3 linked regions of the Homo sapiens genome follow. The protein of the gene in region 1 interacts with the protein of each later gene in a biochemical or structural test. Each region holds a gene or a part of one and is shown on either strand. Other genes may lie near its edges. The genes, in order: DLG3, ABCA2 and RTKN.

What was found.
Region 2: the proteins of DLG3 (region 1) and ABCA2 interact in a test that uses a peptide from one of them, tested with the Homo sapiens proteins (one large-scale study listed by IntAct).
Region 3: the proteins of DLG3 (region 1) and RTKN interact in a test that uses a peptide from one of them, tested with the Homo sapiens proteins (one large-scale study listed by IntAct).

What each region holds. Positions count from the first base shown.
Region 1 is NC_000023.11:70,489,826-70,493,468, reverse strand, and holds part of DLG3 (disks large homolog 3), read right to left. Parts: intron 1,363-3,643; coding exon 1,186-1,362; intron 949-1,185; coding exon 873-948; intron 94-872; coding exon of another isoform or gene 1-93. UniProt on the Homo sapiens protein: Required for learning most likely through its role in synaptic plasticity following NMDA receptor signaling.
Region 2 is NC_000009.12:137,011,235-137,014,877, forward strand, and holds part of ABCA2 (ATP-binding cassette sub-family A member 2), read right to left. Parts: intron 3,577-3,643; coding exon 3,456-3,576; intron 3,171-3,455; coding exon 2,934-3,170; intron 2,805-2,933; coding exon 2,598-2,804; intron 2,330-2,597; coding exon 2,227-2,329; intron 2,085-2,226; coding exon 1,768-2,084; intron 1,692-1,767; coding exon 1,478-1,691; intron 1,357-1,477; coding exon 1,251-1,356; intron 1,143-1,250; coding exon 1,031-1,142; intron 929-1,030; coding exon 868-928; intron 785-867; coding exon 610-784; intron 516-609; coding exon 400-515; intron 321-399; coding exon 173-320; intron 76-172; coding exon 1-75. UniProt on the Homo sapiens protein: Probable lipid transporter that modulates cholesterol sequestration in the late endosome/lysosome by regulating the intracellular sphingolipid metabolism, in turn participates in cholesterol homeostasis.
Region 3 is NC_000002.12:74,439,715-74,443,457, forward strand, and holds the start of RTKN (rhotekin), read right to left. Parts: upstream 2,224-3,743; 5' UTR 2,103-2,223; coding exon 1,992-2,102; intron 870-1,991; exon of another isoform or gene 1-869. UniProt on the Homo sapiens protein: Mediates Rho signaling to activate NF-kappa-B and may confer increased resistance to apoptosis to cells in gastric tumorigenesis. May play a novel role in the organization of septin structures.

The sequences.
Region 1 (3,643 bases):
TATGCTGCTCTCCTGGGCCATGTTTTCTTTGCTCTTGTAAAATGGAAACTTTCGAGAGAGGCGGAAACTCTTTTTACGTTTCGTTTTGATCGACTGTGAAAGAACATGAAGATGGAGGGGAAGGACAGAAGAAAAAAAAAAACAGAACAATGGATTTTAAAGCATGCAAGAAAAACTAAAATGGAGACAACGGTGAGCTAAATAAAAGACCATCTCTCACAAATGGAGTCTATGAGATTAAATGAAAGTTGATGTAAGAGGAAAATTATGTTTACAAGAAAATGTTGTAGGGATGTTAGAAGTTTCTACATAATCCAGACACTCATAACACTCACTGGTACTTCCTAAAGAACAAAGGTCACTGTAGCCTCCTGGACACATGCCCTAAGGTACCACTGATATACACATCTACTCCACGTCTCTCTTCCCTCTACTGCTCCAGAAGTTCTTTGGCCTGTGAAGCTCATAGAAAAAAAGGGGTGAATGGAGAACCCGCCTGCCTCAGGTGGTCTGAAGGGAGGTGGGAGCTCTGGAGCTGGGCTTCTTGGCCGGATGCTCTGACAGGATCTATAGCCAGGGAGACACCCACGAGTGGTTTCATTTTCCCCAAGCAAGTCAGCCTTCCAGACAGTCCAACTCTAACACATCTTCAAGAGCCGGTACCCAGGGGAAAGGAGCACAGACTGGCTGTGAACTTTAAGAGCTCCCTCTCTGCTTTCTGAAAAGCAGTCAATGTTCTGATAGGACAGAGCCAGCCCCCTGAAAAAGAGATTTTCTTTTGTGTTCCCCAGTTCTCCTACACATCAGACTAAACTCCAGGCTTCTCAACCCTCTTTACCTACTGGCTGATTTCCTTGGGGATCCCCACTTACCCTGTTAGACTCAATCATCCCCGTCCTGGCATGGAACTTCACAGTTTTCAATCGAGCTCTTTCTTTCTTTTCCACCCTGTTTTGGAATCAGAAAGAAGTCCTGTTACTGCCAGTAAATGGTCTCAGCAGTGGGTTGCAGCAGGCACAGCAGCCATTTTTTTGGCTCACTGAGTAAAAACCATGTTGAGTACCGACTCTACCAAAAAGGAATCAAGGCACAAACGTTGCTCTCAAGCAACTTCTAATAGGAAAACAAGAAAGAAATACCAGCAAGAGGGCAGGAAAGGCCTTGCTCATGATCATGACGACTCACCTCTTCTTACTGGGGATCACACCGATCTGCTCACTTTCTCCGTGTGGGGTCACCAGCCTTGCCTGCCACCACTCATCATCAGAGGCATTAATGACATGCAGAATGTCACCATAAGAGAAGCTGAGCCCCTGGCTTGGCAGGCAGCTGTCCCGAGTCCGATCATAATCAAACAGGGCCCTGAAAGGCACAGTGAAAGATGAAGTGATCATCCAACCCTAAATGCCAAGACACTGGCACCTTGAAAAGATGGAAGGCCAACCCAAACAGCACAGACATAGCAGCCTCACAGTATACTAGAAGGATGTCTCCAGGAGACCACATCCTTCTTTCTGAGCCAAAGTGGTAAATATGCACCCGCTTTCAAAGAAACATCTCATTCTCCCAATAAGAAGCATAAGAGAAAATATTTTACAAACCCCATCTCCTCTTGGCTTCTGGATGCAAGATAAAAGTCCAAAGTAGAACTCGCTCAATAGCCCTCTCCCTCACCCACATCCTAGGAAACTAGCTCTAGCAGGGCGCTTTCTCAGTTCACAAACATATCTTCAAAAAGTAGCTAAAGAGAGGACAAAAAATGTTAACTACAATCCCAAACAATGACTGGTAAACACTCCTGAAGCACTAAAGAAAGGGCCCTATGTCCTCGGGCAGCCAAAGAAAAAGCACAGAATGGTAGGGTTGAAAAGACCAATGGGACCATAGAAGTCACCTAGTGCGGTCTCTTTCTCTTACATATGGGGAAACAGAGGTTCAGGGAGGAAAAAATAGTTTGACCTAGGTCATACATCTAACCAACCTGGGACAAAACCCAGGTCTTCTGACAAGACATGCTGTTGTGACATGCTATAAATGATGCAGAGTAAAGAAATAAAAGGGAAGGTGGGAGAAGGTGGGGAGGGAGCTATACAATCCAGGCTTATGGAAAAGGACACCAGCTTGGCTGATGCTAGAAGTCCTAGGAAATGGTATTGGAAATAAAGGTCTGAAGCAAATTTTGGAAGCCCTTGAATAGACAAGATCTAGTGGCCCCTGGAAATCTGAGAGGAGTGACACATCAAAAGAGCCTTAGGAGGTCGGGCGCAGAGGCTCACGCCTGTAATCCCAGCACTTTGGGAGGCTGAGGCGGGTGGATCACCTGAGGTCAGGAGTTCAAGAGCAGCCTGGCCAATATGGTGAAACCCCATCTCTACTAAAACTACAAAAATTAGCTGGGTGTGATGTTGCATGCCTGCAGTCCCAGCTACTCGGGAGGCTGAGGCAGGAGAATCACTTGAACTTGAGAGGTGGAGGTTACAGTGAGCCAAGATTACGACACTGCACCCCAGCCTAAGCGACAGAGCAAGACTCTGTCTCAAAAAAAAAAAGCCAAAAAAAAAGTTTCTACTTTTCACATCCAGTGGAACCTGTCTTCATATGGAGTCACCACAAATGGGTGATTTCAGTGAGAAGTTTGTATTTTTCTACCTGCAATCTAGGCTGTCTTCTTCATATTCTCTGTTAATAAGGTGTTTTCACACCTTTGCACACACAGCCCAAAATCTAGTTCCAAGACTTTGACTTCTACCTGCAATACTGTGGCCTTTGGCTCAGTTGGAAGCTGCAAGTAAAACACACTATCTTACCATATGCAAGCCCAAATGAGATAGGATGTAGTAAAACCATGAAGAGTGAAATACTCACCTACTGCTTACAGCTCTTGAAACAGAGTTCTTAAAAATCAGCGTCAGATGATTTGAAAATGAAAATACCCAAACTCTAACAAAAAGCCCTTTTTTCCCCTCAATTTACACACTCAAAGCAGTAAGGAGAATGGCAGAGGCAGCAGACAAGGAGGTGCTGTCCGAGAGGTGCATTCCGGGCTATGTGTGACAGAATCAAAACTGAATGCATTCTCACTGCCTGAGTCCTGCATTTCCTAAAGCAAGGAAGACATTCTGTCAGCCACTCCTACTAAGAAGAGCATCATGAAGCAACCTCATTCTCAGTGACAATGAGAAACACTGGATGTCATTATGGGTTTCAAAGATTAGAACAAATATAGTAAGGAAAAGAACAGAACTTGAATTAAGCACAAATTAGTTTGGTGAGAGAAGGAAGGAAGATGTTAAAATGAATTTAGGAGGCCGGGCGCGGTGGCTCACGTCTGTAATCCTAACAATTTGGGAGGCTGAGGCAGGCAGATCACTTGAGGTCAGGAGTTCGAGACCAGCCTGGCCAACATGGCAAAACCCCGTCTCTGCTAAAAATACAAAAATTGGCCGGGCATGGTAGCGGGCACCTGTAATTTCAGCTACTCGGGAGGCTGAGGCAGGAGAATTGCTTCAACCTGGGAGGCAGAGGTTGCAGTGAGCCGAGATTGCGCCACTGCACTCCAGCCTGGGTGACAGAGCGAGACTCTGTCTAAAAAATAAATAATAAATAAATAAAATAAAATGAATTAGGGGAGTTAGGATGAATT
Region 2 (3,643 bases), on another chromosome or scaffold:
GAGCCCGTGGCCCAGGTTGTAGTTGGGGAAAATGAGGAAGCAGCTTTTCAGGTAACTGTTGACAACCTTCAGGTCCTGCGGGGTGGCCGGGGTCAGGGGCACAGGGGTGGCCGGGGTGAGGGGCACAGCCTCCGCAGGGTCCGCCACCCCCACCATGTCGTCACCGCCCCACCTTGTCGTGCTCGAAGAGCTGTAGCAGGAAGGTGGCCACGGTGGCGGTGATGCCGATGAAGAGATTGATGACAATGAGGAACACGTAGGCGGAGCTGGGGACCTCGAACCAGAAGGAGGCCGGGTACATGATGGGCGTGATGGACCACCTGCGGGCAGGTGGCGGGCAGTGGTCACCAGGCAGCCCCGGTCCCACCTGAGGCCGCTCCCCCCTCCGCTTCCGCTTACCCATAGAGCAGGAAGAGGGAGAGGACGGCAGGGAAGTTGGTGGGCGACGTGTAGGCCGGCAGGTCGAACACAAACAGGATGATGACACAGCAGGTAGCGGGGACCAGGTAGTTGAGCTGCAGGGGTGGGGGCGGCTGGTGAGAGACCCGGGGCAGGGCGGGGATGGGGGATGAGAAGGGCCGGGGCACCCCATGGCCACGCCGGGCGCACCATGTCCCACACGTAGTTCGCCAGCCAGTAGATGATGGGGTTGCAGCCGCTGACAAACTGCAGGTGCTTGGCCTTGGTGGACTTCTCGGCCACGAGGAAGACAACGAAGCTGGCCGGCACGAAGGACATGGCCACGATGATGAAGATGGCGATGACGACATCCGTGCCCTGCAGCCTGGGGCAAGGAAGCCCTCAGTCCTCACGGCCGGGGCTGCAGTGCCCACCTGCCCCACCTCATCCCCCACTGGCCACACTTACAGGTAATCCAGGGAGAGGCTGGCGCTGGTCTTATTCATGGGGTGGTTGGTGACGGTGATGCCTGCACACGGCGGGGCGGGGGCGGCAGCTTCAGGCCCCAGCTCCTCCCCGCCCCGGCCCCAGCTCCTCCCCGCCCCGCCCCGCCCTGCCTATGTCAGCTCACCGTAAGCCGCCGGGTTGCCCTTGCTCTTGGGCAGGTTGGCACGCAGGATGGCGTTGTTGAGGCTGTTGAGGTAGGTGGGCATGCTGTGATAGCCCTTGTTGTTGTAGAAAACCTGCAGAAGGAAGAGGACACAGAAAGGCCCCAGGACCTCAGACCTGGGTCCCTGCAGACCTCGGGCGGCGCTACACACAGCGGGGCCCAGGCCCGCAGCCTCGCTCACCTGGGCAGCCCTGCGCACCGCGATCTTCCGCACCATGGGTGGGGCCCTGGTGCCAAATGAGGCTGGGATGGACTTCAGGACGTTTCCAAAGGTGATGGCCCCATACCTGGGCAGGCAGGTGGGAGGGGCGGTGAGGCTAGGCAGGCAGTGAGGCTAGAGGGGCAGGAGTTGAGACTAGGTGGCTGGTGGCCGGCCACCCTCACCCACAGCCTCCCCACCCAGCTCACCGGTGCAGTCGGAAGCGGTCGGAGGTGAAGAGCAGGTACTCAGAGACATTGTGGCCGGTGATGTCGGTCAGGATGTCGCCTGTGACCACCCGCATCTGGGGCGGGTGCCCGCCCACACTGCTGGGGCAGGAGAAGCCGGTGCCCTGCGCAGAGCAGGTGCAGCGGACGGGCTCCCGTACCAGGCGCGGCAGGGAGGGTGCCGACGTCCACATTTCTGTGGGCACAGCATGGTGCGGTGAGAAGGACCCCTCACTGCCCCTGCCCCCCCAGCAGGCCCCCTGAACCACTACCTGGCCCAGCGGTGGGCGGCAGGGAGACGTTCCAGGCCTGCAGGTCCTCATCCGGGGACGCTGGCGAGTCAGATGGGGCGGGCGAGGGTGGGGGTGGCACGAAATTGGACAGTGGCAGCCCCTGTGTGAAGGACTCCAGACACATGCTGTCGAAGAACCGAGCCGCCAGCAGGCGCGACTCCCCGCTGCTCAGGTTCAACGTGGGCCCCAGCGAGCCGTTGGCGGGAGACTTGAGCACGCAGGTGGCACCCACCCCCGACGGCAGCCGGAACGTGCTCACGAGCTGCTGGGGGCTGGCGTCGGGCGATAGCCGCAGCCTGCGGGCACCGACAGTGTGAGGTGGGGCTGCCAGTCTCCGCCCCTCGCCAGCCCCGCCCCCTCGCCCGCCTGGCCCACCAAGGCTGTCCCCGCCCCTTCACTCGCCCCACCCACCAAGGCTGCCCCCGCTGGAGGCCTCACCGGTACTCGCGGCGCTCCTCGTTGGCGTAGGGGATGAAATTGCCACGGGGCTGGGTGTAGTTGTGGTACTGGGAAGGTGACAGGACCAGCGGGGGCAGATCACCTGGCAGGGCGAGCAGGGAGGCCTGAGCAGGTTCTGCCCTCTGGCCAGCGGCCCCCAAGCCTCGGTCCCCTTCCCCCAACCCCAAGGGATCCACGCCTGGGGTCTGGGACCCGAGGAGACAGGACTCCCGGATGAACCCCGGTGCGTGCCCAGCCTCAGGTGTGGGGTGAGGCCCAGAGTCAGGAAGCTCAGGAGTGGGCATCATCAGGGCTCCCAGCGGGCGGTGGGGGGAGGCAAGCCCAGCACCCCTGTCCAGCCGGTGGCCTACCAATCTCCGGGACGGACAGGGCCACGGTCATGGCCACGCAGACGAAGAAGGCTGGCAGCAAGATCTGGGAGAAGAGTGCCTTGGAGTTGCGGCGGGCGCAGTGGAAGCGTTTGACCAGCAGCCCGTGGAACTGGCGCACCTTCAGCCACCCGCCGTCCAGCTTGCGGCTGCCCTGGCCGACCCTCGACAGGGCCTCTGCCTCCACCTCTGTGCAGAGAGGTAGAGGCTGAGCAGGTGGTTGCACGCTACCCTCTCCCTACTGGCTGCCCTCATGCCGCTCCCCCGCAACCCTGCTCCCCCTCCCTTGCTGTCCCAGCCTCACCCTGCCACCCCCACCTTGCAGGCTGACATTGTCTGGGTCCTGTGGGTTATCAAAGAGGGGGCGGTAGTCGCCATAGACGTCGGTGTAGCCAGCTCCCTCGTCGCCACGGGCAGAGCCCACAGATGACGCCGACTGCAGCGATGCCTGCGACTGGGTCAGCTCCGAGCACCGGGCCAGATTGCCAGCGTGACCCTCCCCAGACGCCGGGCCCTCCGCCCCAGGGAGCACATCCTTCCTGGACTCCTTCACATCTGCCGCAGTGGAAGGGCCGAGGGGACACTCAGGGCTACTGGCCCCTAGGCCTGCCCAGGACCCCCATCCCCGGTCTTGACCCCAGTTCCCAGGCTCATACACCTGTCCGGGACCTCTGGCCACCAGGACCACCCACCTAGGACCGCAGGCTAACCCCGGGGCGTCCCCTGGCTTCCACCCAGGACCAGGGTGGCGCCCCCAGACACCAGGCAGGAGTGACAGCGCAGGCCCGAGCTGGGGCCTTGTGGGTGGGGTGGGCTGAGCAAGTGGTCCAGGCCCCTCACCGGCCTCACTGTTCTCCAGCGACTGATCCTCCTCCGACACCTTGAGGAACACTTCCTCCAGGGTCGTGTCCATCAGCCCGAAGCTGCTGAGGTGCAGTGCATCCAGGCTGCGCTCCAGGTGCTGCAGGGGCGGTGGAGGGGGAGGCTGCGGCAGGGACGCCCAGGCAGGAGTGCGCCCACCTCCACCA
Region 3 (3,743 bases), on another chromosome or scaffold:
TCCCTCAGTCTTTAAAGAGGTGGCCAGCTCTTGGGCAGAGGGCAGAAGCTGCCCTTATCCCTCTGCACTCCTGTTAAACCCCTCTGGCTGCTGTGACAAATTTTCCTCGCCCACTGCTGCTCCGGGGCCCTGCCGGGAGCCAGGCAGGGAAGAAAAAGAAAGCGAAGTGAGGATAAGTGGGGTCCCAGGAGGAAAGGCCAGCTGCAGAGGGGGCTCTAGGCACAGAGTGTCCAGTCTCGCTTTGGTGGCAGCTGTTCTCCCAGCTGTGGAAGAAAAAGGCCCTTTCATTCCGACTCTGGCCGCTCCCCAGCCCCCGCCCACATCCCTGGCCTGGTGGACAGGGAATCTGTGTGCGGAGAGGGCAGTGAGGGGCAGGCACAACTGGAAGGGGGCAGGGAAACGACGCCTCATGCAGGTTCTAGAGTCATGGGGTTTGCAGGAGGTTGGAGCTTCCCGAGAGGGGTTCCAGCTTAGTTTGAGAAAGTTGGGAAAAAGAGCCACACAGGTGAGGACCTCAGGGGAGAGTGAGCCCAGGGAATGGGACAAAGGGGTGAGTTGGCAAAGCAGCCCAGCCCTAGGGCCACCCCTTCCAACTCAGGGCCCCCATCCAGCCCGCTCCACCCTGGGCTCACAATTACCTCGCTTTTCCAGAGAAGGGAGGAGAGGGAGAGAGGAAGGCAGGGGTGTGCCTGTCTGCTGCTGTCCCCGCTCCCTTCTGCAGGCCCCTTCCCTTCCAGACAGGAAACCAGCCCCGATTCCGAGCCAGCTGCAGCCTAGCGCCCCCGCCTCCACGCCAGGCCCACGGAGTCACACTTCACTCGGCGGCCGCCAGGCCCTGCGGCTCCGCCCCAGCTCCTCCGAGCTGTCCCCGAAGGCCGGGCTAATCCCAGGGGCGGCCCCAGCTCACAGGCCCCTCCCCCTGGTCCCGGGCCTCGCCCCTTACTCCCCCACGCTGGCCCCACGCGGGTTCCTCGGGCCCAGTCGCTTGGGGGCAAGGGGACGCGACAAAGGCCCCCTCTCCCCAGGTCCACTAGCTTCTGAGTCAGAGAAGGCCCGGGACGCCGGGACAAGGGTGTGAAAGAGCCTCTTTGTTCTGGGCAGGCTGGAGGGAAAGGGCAGAAGCCAGGCCTGGAATCCCAGCCGGGAGGTAGAGGGGGCGGAAGGAAGGCCCACCTCACTTAACCCTTTCCAGACCCGGAAGGGAAGGCTTGGAACTGGGCTCTCCTTGGGCGAGTGTGAGTCTGACCTTGGGGACAGAAGAGTCTTCGGGGTAGCTATTCGCCCTCTCAGTCCCCGCTCAACCACACACCTTCAGCCCCGCCCTAGCCCTTAGGGCGTTACAGGTGGGGATCCAACAGGTTAACGCGTGGACGGCGGACGGGGGAAACGCTCAGCCTAGGGGCTGGACTCCTCTTAGGCCCCAGAAAAGGAGGCGGAAATTTTGCGTGTGGGAAGTAACCCCAAGGAGTTAAAAGCCCTGCAGGGGCATAGAGGAGCCTTTGAATTGGGCTTCGGGGAAGCGAGCGGCCCCGGCCTAAAGTCGGGGTTGATGACAGAGGCTGGCCCAGATGGCTGCGACAGGTTGTGGGATGGGGCTGGCGACTGGGGAACAAGCGGGAGCCCAGGCCAAGAGTCCGAGCGCTTGGGGCCCGCCTAGCTGCCCACCGCCCTTGGCCCGGGGATGCCCAAGACATTTTGGGGTTCAGGCACATTTTAGGAGTCGAGCTGGGGCCCTACAAATTGAGACCAACCCGGGCTTTTTCCAGGCTCAGGCAGATAATCCTAACCAGGCCGCGGAATGGGCAGCATGGATCCGATGAAAATGCAGACCGTCCACACCTTACTTTTTAAGTCAACAACTCCGTCGGGTTTGTACCCAGACCGTGCGTCTCCGCCCCTCGGCGTGCACGCGGGCGAGGGAAGGAGGCCGAGGTGGCTGGGGCTGCCCCCGGGAGCCGCGGAAGGGGAAGGCAGGGACGCGAGTCTCTCACCTCGGGCAGGTCGCTGAAGAGGCTGAGTCGGAAGCGGCCGCGTTTGAACTCCATCTCCAGGGCGGAGCCCCTGGCCACGGTGACCCGGCTCCGGTGGTTTCGGGAGAACATGCTGGCGGCCCTGCGACTTTGCCTGCTCAGTGCGCTCCCCGCGCCGCCCGGCTTAGCCTCCTCTCCTCGGCTTCTGTCTCTCGACGCTCGTCCGCCAGTCCGGCCGGGAATCTCCCGCTGCGGGGCTCCAAACCCCGCCCCCGGAGACGACACCTGGGCCGGGCAGGGCGCGGCAACCTCCTCTTCCACCCCCGCCAAAGGCCCAGCCCGTCCGGCCAGTCCCTGGGCGCCAAGCCGACCTGGCCCGACGGCCCCGGAGCCCCCAGGGGCGCACTGCACCTCGCGAGCACTGTGGGAGCGCGTTCTCCCTGCCCGCGCGGGTCGCGAGCGCCTACCTGGACTTGGGACGGACCGAGAAGCCCTGCCCCGCCAGCCGCCCCAACCTGGCAAGCCTGGCTTCCCGGGCGCTGAAAACCCCGTGGCTCAGGGATCGCCGCGTAGCACGCTCTGGCTCTACTCGGGCCCTGGGACCTTGCCCAGTTTCAATCCCGGCAGCCTCCGAAGAGACCATTTCAACATCCCACAGTCCCAAATGTTCCTTCTTCGTCCCCCTCCCCACCTAGGCTCCTCTGCGAGGCTATCCGCCTAAGCCTAGTGGCCACAACTGATGGGGCGGTGCTTAAACACGTCGTGAAACCCCAGCTCTGTCACTAACTAACCGTGCAATCATTAACTTGGTCCAGTCACTGGCCTTTCTGAGCTTCAGTTTTCTCATTTGTTCAGTGGGAATACTGTAATTATCTCCACTCCTCAAGTTGCTATGAGGATTACCTATAAGAATGAGGGTAAAATGCCCAGCATAGTGCCTGGCACAAGGCAAGTGCCCCATATTTGCAGTCATAAAGAGCAGCTGCGCGCGGTGGCTCACGCCTGTAATCGCAGCACTTTGGGAGGCCTAGGAGGGTGGATCACCTGAGGTTGGGAGTTCGAGACCAGCCTGACCAACATGGAGAAACCCCATCTCTACTAAAAATACAAAATTTAGCCGGCCATGGTGGCACATGCCGGTAATCCCAACTACTTGAGAGGCTGAGGCAGGAGAATCGCTTAAACCCGGGAAGCAGAGGTTGTGGTGAGCTGAGACCCCACCATTGCACTCCACCCTTGGAAACAAGAGCGAAACTACGTCTAAAAAAAAGATGGCTGGGTGCAGTGGCTCAAGCCTGTAATCCTAGCACTTTGGGAGGCCAAGGGGGACTGATCGCTCTTGAGCTCAGGAGTTGGAGACCAGCCTGGGCAACATGAAACCCTGTCTCAACAAAACACACACACACACGCACACACACACACAAATTGGCCTGGCATGGTGGTGCACACCTGTAGTCCCAGCTACTCGGGAGGCTAAGGTGGGAGGATTGCTTGAGCCCGAAAGTTCAAGTCCAGCCTGGGCAACATAGTGGGACCCCATCTCTTAAAAAGCATTACAAATATGTATAATTTTTTATTTTTATTTATTTATTTATTTATTTATTTTAATTTTTTTTTTTTAAGACAGAGTCTCACTCTGTCACCCAGGCTGGAGTGCAATGGCATGATCTCGACTCACTGCAACCTCTGCCTCCTGGGTTCAATCGATTCTCCTGCCTCAGCCTCCGGAGTAGCTGGGATTACAGGCGTCTGCCACCATATCTGGCTAATTTT